2 linked regions of the Homo sapiens genome follow. The protein of the gene in region 2 purifies or fractionates together with the protein of the main gene of each other region. This does not show direct contact. Each region holds a gene or a part of one and is shown on either strand. Other genes may lie near its edges. The genes, in order: GTF2E2 and ATF7IP.

Region 1 (3,823 bases), on a different chromosome or scaffold from region 2:
TGATAGCAGATGGGGAAGACCATTGACTAGTAAGGGTTATGTTCCTTACTTTATAATGCCAGTATGTGATAAGCTGTACTTTGCAGATGGAGTGGGCACTACTCAGTTCACTTTGTCTATTAATATTTGTAGGTGTTTTATTGATTCCTACACATTTTGACTACTAGAAGAATATGGGTTCAGCTTTTTTCAAAGTAGTTGTGATAAAATGGTTTATTTCTCTTCAAAGAATTTATGTAAATAAAACACAGTTTCTTTTATAAAAAGTGAGCACCGTGCTGATCTACTGTTCTGGAATTCTGGATGTCCAGGATTTTAGGCCTGCCAGTTTGTATTCATAAGGTACTTTTAATTTGCCACTGTATTGGCTAGTGTTGTATTTTAAAATAATTAGTAGAATTAAGAATGTGTATATGGGCTGGGCACAGTGGCTCACGCCTATAATCCCAGTACTTTGGGAGGCTGAGGTGGGTGGATCACCTGAGGTCAGAAGTTCAAGACCAGCCTGGCCAATGTGGTGAAACCCCGTCTCTACTAAAAATACAAAAATTCGCTGGGTGTGGTGGTGCGCACCTGCAGTCCCAGGTGCTGAGAGGGAGGGAGGCAGGAGAGGGAGGCTGAGGCAGGAGAATCGCTTGAACCCAGGAGGCGGAGGTTGCAGTGAGCTGAGATCACGCCACTGCACTCCAGCCTGGGCGACAGAGCAAGATTACGTTTCAAAAATATATATATATATTTATGTTCCATTTGTTAATATATTCCAATTGTATCACTGTTACAGGCTTTAGTCAACAATCCCAAAATTGAAGTAATAGATGGGAAGTATGCTTTCAAGCCCAAGTACAACGTGAGAGATAAGAAGGCCCTACTTAGGCTCTTAGATCAGCATGACCAGCGAGGATTAGGAGGAATTCTTTTAGAAGACATAGAAGAAGCACTGCCCAATTCCCAGAAAGCTGTCAAGGTAATCTCTCTTTTCTTTCTATGTCTTAATATAATTTGAATGAATAATGACTTCTTGGTTTTAAAAATATCAAACATTTTACAATTGTTTTTAAAGCTTCTATTATATACACATGGGTTACAGTGAGCCACTTGAAGGTTTGAAATTTGTCTTGTGCCACCTAGCAGGAAAGGGAGCAGCCATCTCTGTGTAACTTTGACGGGTTCTTGTTGCTGTTACTATATGATTGTTTGATTGTTCAGGCTATTTCTGGAAAATTTTCCTCAAAGGCAATAGAGTTTCTCTTGTAAGCTCTGTTTGTAAATAAGAGTGTCTTCTATAATACTAGTAGATGTTCCTTACCTGAGGAACTAGAGGCATTAAAACATGAAAGCATTGGTTAATAACCTGGCTGTTTTGAAGTCCTAAAGGGGCTATCTATGAAAGTCCTACTGATACAGATGACATTTCCAGTTTAAATTTGAAACTCACTGGGGAAAGCTGCTTGTTTCCATTTGTCACAGTTGCTCATTATTAATGTTAACTTGTTAAGCAGGTTCATTCATTTTGCTGCCTGTAGAAGAAAACTTGCCCCTTTGTCTCTTCTTCTTGGTAATGGAATTATACATGTCAGATCTTCTGGTATTGTACTACAAGTCCCTGAGGCTCTGTTTATTTATTTCAATTTTTTTTCTGTTCTATTAATCCATTGTCAAGTTCACTCACTTTTCTTCTTCACTTCCAACTTGTTAAGCCCAGTTGGTGAATTTTTTAATTGTATTTTTCAGTTCTAGTCTTTCTTTGTAAATTTTTCTTCTGGTTTCTGTTTCTTTGCTGAATTTTGTTTTCTTTTTTTTCCATTCGTGACAAGTATCTTTTGTTACACCCTTAAGTATGATTTCTTATAGCTGCTTTAAAATTCTTCTTATTCTAACAGCCGAGTCATCTCAGAGCTGGTCTGCATTGACTGTCTCTTTTATGGGTCATATTTTCCTGTTTCTTCATATATCTAATACATTTCTGTTGGGTCTTAGACCTTGTGGATTATATTAATATGTGTAAAGACTCAGGATTCTGTTACATTCCTCCCAAGAGTGTTTCTATTTGTTTTGTTTTGTGGTTAAGTGGGCAGTTACTCCAAACCTTGTCTGCCCTACAGCAGGTAGCATATGATATGTCTCTTCTGTTCTTCTAGCCTTAGCCCGTTTGCTTGGAATCTTGGAATCTTTTTCCAAGACTGGCTTATTTCACTTAGCATAATATTCTCAAGGTTCATCCATGTTGTACTTGCAACAGGATTTTCTTCCTTTTTAAAGCTGAATAATATTCCATTGTGTTTTTGTTGTTGAATTGTGGGAGTTTTAAAAAATATATTCTGGATATTAATTCCTTAACAGATACATGATTTGCAAATATTTTCTCCCATTCTGTAGGTTGCCATTTTACTCTGTTGATTGTGCTCTTTAATTTGCCAGTTTCTGAGTTTGCTGCACTCTTGTCTATTTTTGATTTTGTTGCCTGTGCCTTTAGTATCATGTTTAAATCACTGCCAAATCTAATGTCATGAAGCTTTTGTCCTATGTTTTCTTCTAGGAGTTTTATAGTTTTGGGTCTTAGGTATTTAGAGTTAATTTTTGTATATGGTGTAAGAGTCCAACTTTATTCCTTTTCATGTGGATATCCAGTTTTCTCAGTGTCTTGATGAAGAGACCGTCCTTTGCCCATTGAATAGTCTTAGTCTTGGTACTCATGTGGAAGATCATTTGACCATATATGTGAAGGTTTATTTCTGGGCCCTCTATTCTGCCTGTATGTCTTTCTTCATGCCAGCACTACAATGTTTTGATTAATGTAGCCTTTTTTTTTTTTTTTTTTTGAGACAGAGTCACACTGTCACCCATGCTGGAGTGCAGTGATGCAATCTTGGGTCACTGCAACCTCTGCCTCCCAGGTTCAAGCAGTAGTCCTGCCTCAGCCTCCTGATTAGCTGGGATTATAGGCACACACCACCACACCCAACTAATTTTTTTATTTTTGGTAGAGATGTGGTTTTACCATGTTGGCCAGTCTGGTCTCGAACTCCTGACCTCAAGTGATCTGCCCACCCTCGGCTTCCCAAAGTGGTGGCATTCCAGGTGTGAGCCACTGCACCTGGCCTGATTAATGTAGCTCTGTAATATATTTTGAAATCAGTAAGAGTGAGATCACCAATTTTGTTCTTTTTCAAGATTGTTTTGGCTATGTATTAGTCTATTCTTGCAATGCTATAAAGGAATGCTTGAGACTGGATAATTTATAAAGAAAAGAGATTGATTTGGCTCACAGTTCTGCAGGCTCTCCAGGAAGCATGATGCTGGTGTCTACTCAGCTTATGGGGAGGTCTCAGGAAACTTATAATCATGGCAGAAGGTGAAGGGGAAACAGGCTCATCTTACATGGCCGGAGCAGGAGCAAGAGAGAGTGGGGAAGGTGCCACACACTTTTAAATGACCAGATCTCATGAGAACTCATTATCAGGAGAACAGCACCAAGAGGGAAATCCACCTTCATACCAGTCACCGCCCACCAGGCCCCACCTCCAACATTGGGGATTACAGTTTGACATGAGATTTGATGGGGACACAGATCTAAACCATTTCAGGCTTTTTGAGGTCCCTTGAGATTTGATATAAATTTTTGGATGGATTTTTCCATTTCTGCAAAAAATGCCATTGGGATTTTGATAGGGATTACCTTGAATAGGTAACTTTGGGTAGTATTGCCATCGTAACTGTATTAAGTTTTTTAATACATGAGCACAGAATTCATTTATTCATGTCTTTAATTTTTTTTAGCAATGCCTTCAGGTTCTTTCATTTATTTTATGTATGTACAATTTGA
Region 2 (3,823 bases):
CAAGAAATCTTGCACAAGGTGGATTTTACATGGGGTATCATGCACAAGATTAAAAACAAGACCAAAAGGTGGAAATTTTAAAAGAGGAAAATATAAAGGCTCCAAGGTTTAACTGCTCTGGGTAGAAGAGATCACATCTGTTGACTGAGGATCACAGAAAGGCCCAAAACGTCCATAAATATCCTTGGCTCGTACTGCAAAGTAGTATTTGCTACCAGATACAAACTGGGTGAGAGTACATGCCATGGGCAAGGGAAGTGCCTTGACTTCCCCAATCTTTTTCCATTGTGAGGGCACAGTGGCACTGGGTTCCTCATGGTAAGCATAGAGATGGTAGCTATCAACAGTGGCACAGCTTCGATCCACCTCCAGGACACTCCATGACAGTACTATGCCATTTTGACTCTGAACGCGTGCTAACTTCAAGTGTGGCTTCTGAGGCAGAGATGTGCTGGCAGCTTCTGGGGGCAGACGCTGTGGTTGTGGAGCTTCTGGTAAGGGTGCTGGGTGCACGGGGCGTGGGGGCTCCTGAAGAAACAGGTCACACTGATTAATGATGATTGCAAAAAGAACTATTTTAGAATGTTAGAATTAAAACACCTTAGAGAACATACGTAGAAGTATCATTTTATATCAAGAATTCTAGGAAATACCAAATACCATATCAAATTTGGCAAGTTCTATTTGGGGTTTTGTAATGAATCATGCTACAAACAATGATGCTGAGGTTATTCCTACTATACTTCCTAGACCTAAAATATTTTGAGTTTTTCTTAGGAAATAAAAAGCCCCTGCTGACGGAACATCATTTTGAGGAACACGGAAGTAATGATCTATTTCTAACAAAATAATTTATGATTGAATTATCTATGTTACAGATTATCATTTCAGTATGATGTAACATTTTTAAATATCATGTATGGCAACCAAGATCATATAAAATTGGAGAATACAAATATACTTTCATTTTTAAGTTATTTATAAATAAGCACATTAACACTAAATGTGTACTATATTCTTGGCCAATTTACAAGAAAAAGGTGATATTTAAACTCAACTGTGAAGGAGGATCCAGAGATGCAGAAATAATCATGTACCTTTCAGCCAAAAATAAAGCATGAGCAAAGGCATGTGGACAGTAAAGTGAGGGGACGTATGGACAAGAACAAGTATTAACTTTTTCTTGGACATAGGGTACATGAAGAAAAATCTGGAAAGGTAGGTTAAGGCCAGATGATGAAAAAACATGACTCTAACTTTAGGAAGTCCTATTGACTTTTCTAACACTGGAACATCATCATCATTATAATGATATTTCATACCAGTCAAACACTGACAAAATTGTGTCACAGGATAATGTGACATTGTTTTGGAGGCTAAATCTAAGGAGAAATCTTTGGTTATCTCTGTTACCTCTTAACTAATGAATTCCCAATATCATTGGATTCTTTAGAACAATTAATTGATGACAATGTAGCAGTTAGATGTGGCATAGTTTAGAACGAAAGAATAAAATTAACACATGGAGAAATGAAAAATGTCCTTTTTAATTTAACTATGAATTAGAAATGGTCTATATTTCACTTCATATACCCCAACTGTGGACCTGTTTTTGTACACTGTACACCACAAGCAAACTCAATGATTCTAAATGATCATCATCCCTAGGAACTATGTGTTCATAATGGTAAGATCAATTTTTAGAAATAAACTTCTGAAAAAGCAGGAAGACCTAACACTTCCCTTGGATATAACCATTTTAAAGAAAAATGCCAAATACAATAATATTTTATACCTCTACAGTTGAGAATTTTGCAAAACCAAGCATCAACACTTACAGTATGCACTTGTGGTGGTCGGTGATGCACTGTGAGCTGAGGTCCTGTTGATCCCAGGGTTAGTCCATTGTTTACAACATATGTGGTTGTTTGAGGCACTCGAACTGTAACACCTACAAACAAACAAAAAAATTACAGGATAAAATGATAATTCTATTGTAAATTTGGTGGAAAACTGATTAAATATTTGAAGGCAGTGAAGCAATGTTTTCAAGATTCGAAAGGAAAGATATTTCTAACCTAGAGGTCCTGTTCGTATTCAGCCAAGCTATCAATCAGCCTGTGGATAAAAAAACTTTCTTACATGCAAGCACTAAAAAAAAATTCTAACTACCACAAACCCTTTCTCAAATAGTCAATGGAGAATATGTGCCACCAGTACGTGAGAAAATAAAGAGAAAAACACGAGACACAAGCAACAGGAGGTCCAGCACAGGGAGAAATAAATGGATCGTTACCAGGAGAACTATGAACAAAAATCCTAGAACACTGGTTGTGTACCACATGTAAAAGGTAAATGGCCATAATGGAGCAGTGTGACTCAAAAGACAGACAAACTGGGAGTATCTTCATAAAAATCTCTGCAGTCTCATCTTTTCAACCAGGACAGAAAGCCAGAATAAGTCATCCTTGCCATGTATTAATGAGGTTCCTCTCATTTTCTCCATGCCCAGCTCCTTGGTTGAGGATACTCACTTCACCCCACAGAAAACTGCTGTGACATACACCAGGGAAACAAAAAGAGAAAATTTAGAGCCACCTACTGCCCTAACTATATTCCTGCCATTTATTCAGTACCTGGCCCATGCTGTAGTTCGGCCTGGTTCCTGGACTATAGTGAGCCAAGTTTCCCAGAACTCATTTCTAACCTTGTTGATTAATTTTCCCAGACAACGCTCTTGTAAACTTGAGAGAGTTGAAGCCAAGCTATGATCCAGGGACTCCAATCAGTTTATTTTCTAAATGATAGCATTACTGTGTTTCTTTAAATAGCTATATTTTCCCTTGCTGTCACATTTTGCAAAACTACAACATATGTGTGATGGTTAATACTGAGTGTCAACTTGATTAGATTGAAGGACACAAAGTATTAACCCTGGGTGGGCCTGTGAGGATGTTGCCAAAAGAGATTAACATTTGAGTCAGTGGACTGGGGAAGGCAGATCCACCCTTCATCTGGTGGGCACAATCTAATCAGCTGCCAGAAAATATAAAGCAGGCAGAAAAACGTGAAAAGGAGAGACAGGCTTAGCCTTAGCCTCCCAGCCTACATCTTTTTCCTGTGCTGGATGCTTCCTGCCCTGGAACATTGGCCTCCAAGTTCTTCAGTTTTGGGACTCAGACTGGCTTCCTTGCTCCTCAGCTTGCAGACAGCCTACTGTGGGATCTTTTTTTTTTTTTTTTTTTTTTTGAGACAGAGTCTGGCTCTGTTGCCCAGGCTGGAGTGCAGTGGCATGATCTCGGCTCACTGCAACCTCCGCCTCCTGGGCTCAAGAGATTCTCCTGCCTCAGCCTCCCAAGTAGGTGAGATTACAGGCTTGTGCCACCACACCCAGCCAATTTTTGTATTTTTGGTAGGGATGAGGTTTCACGATGTTGGCCAGGCTCATCTCGAACTCCTGACCTCAAGTGATCTGCCTGCCTTGGCCTCCCATACTGCTGGGATTACAGGCGTGAGCTACCATGCCCAGTCTATTGTGGGAACTTCTGATTATGTAAATTAATACTTAATAAACTCCCCTTTATATATATAAACATTCACTATATATAAAGTATTTTACATATATTTAATATTTATATATAATTAAGATATACTGTATATATATAGTAGGATATAAAGTATATATACAATTAGTTTATATGTAGTATATATTTTATGTATATACCCTATTAGTTTAATACATATATAATATATAAAATATATATATCCTATTAGTTTATATATAGTATATATTATATGAATACTATATATAGGAAACATATGT

Evidence for each region.
Region 1: the proteins of ATF7IP (region 2) and GTF2E2 purify together in Homo sapiens (affinity purification with western blotting, with the first as the bait; one study listed by BioGRID). This does not show direct contact.

What each region holds. Positions count from the first base shown.
Region 1 is NC_000008.11:30,609,440-30,613,262, reverse strand, and holds part of GTF2E2 (transcription initiation factor IIE subunit beta), read left to right. Parts: intron 1-781; coding exon 782-964; intron 965-3,823. UniProt on the Homo sapiens protein: Recruits TFIIH to the initiation complex and stimulates the RNA polymerase II C-terminal domain kinase and DNA-dependent ATPase activities of TFIIH. Both TFIIH and TFIIE are required for promoter clearance by RNA polymerase.
Region 2 is NC_000012.12:14,494,359-14,498,181, reverse strand, and holds part of ATF7IP (activating transcription factor 7-interacting protein 1), read right to left. Parts: intron 1,952-3,823; coding exon 1,839-1,951; intron 529-1,838; coding exon 109-528; 3' UTR 1-108. UniProt on the Homo sapiens protein: Recruiter that couples transcriptional factors to general transcription apparatus and thereby modulates transcription regulation and chromatin formation. Can both act as an activator or a repressor depending on the context.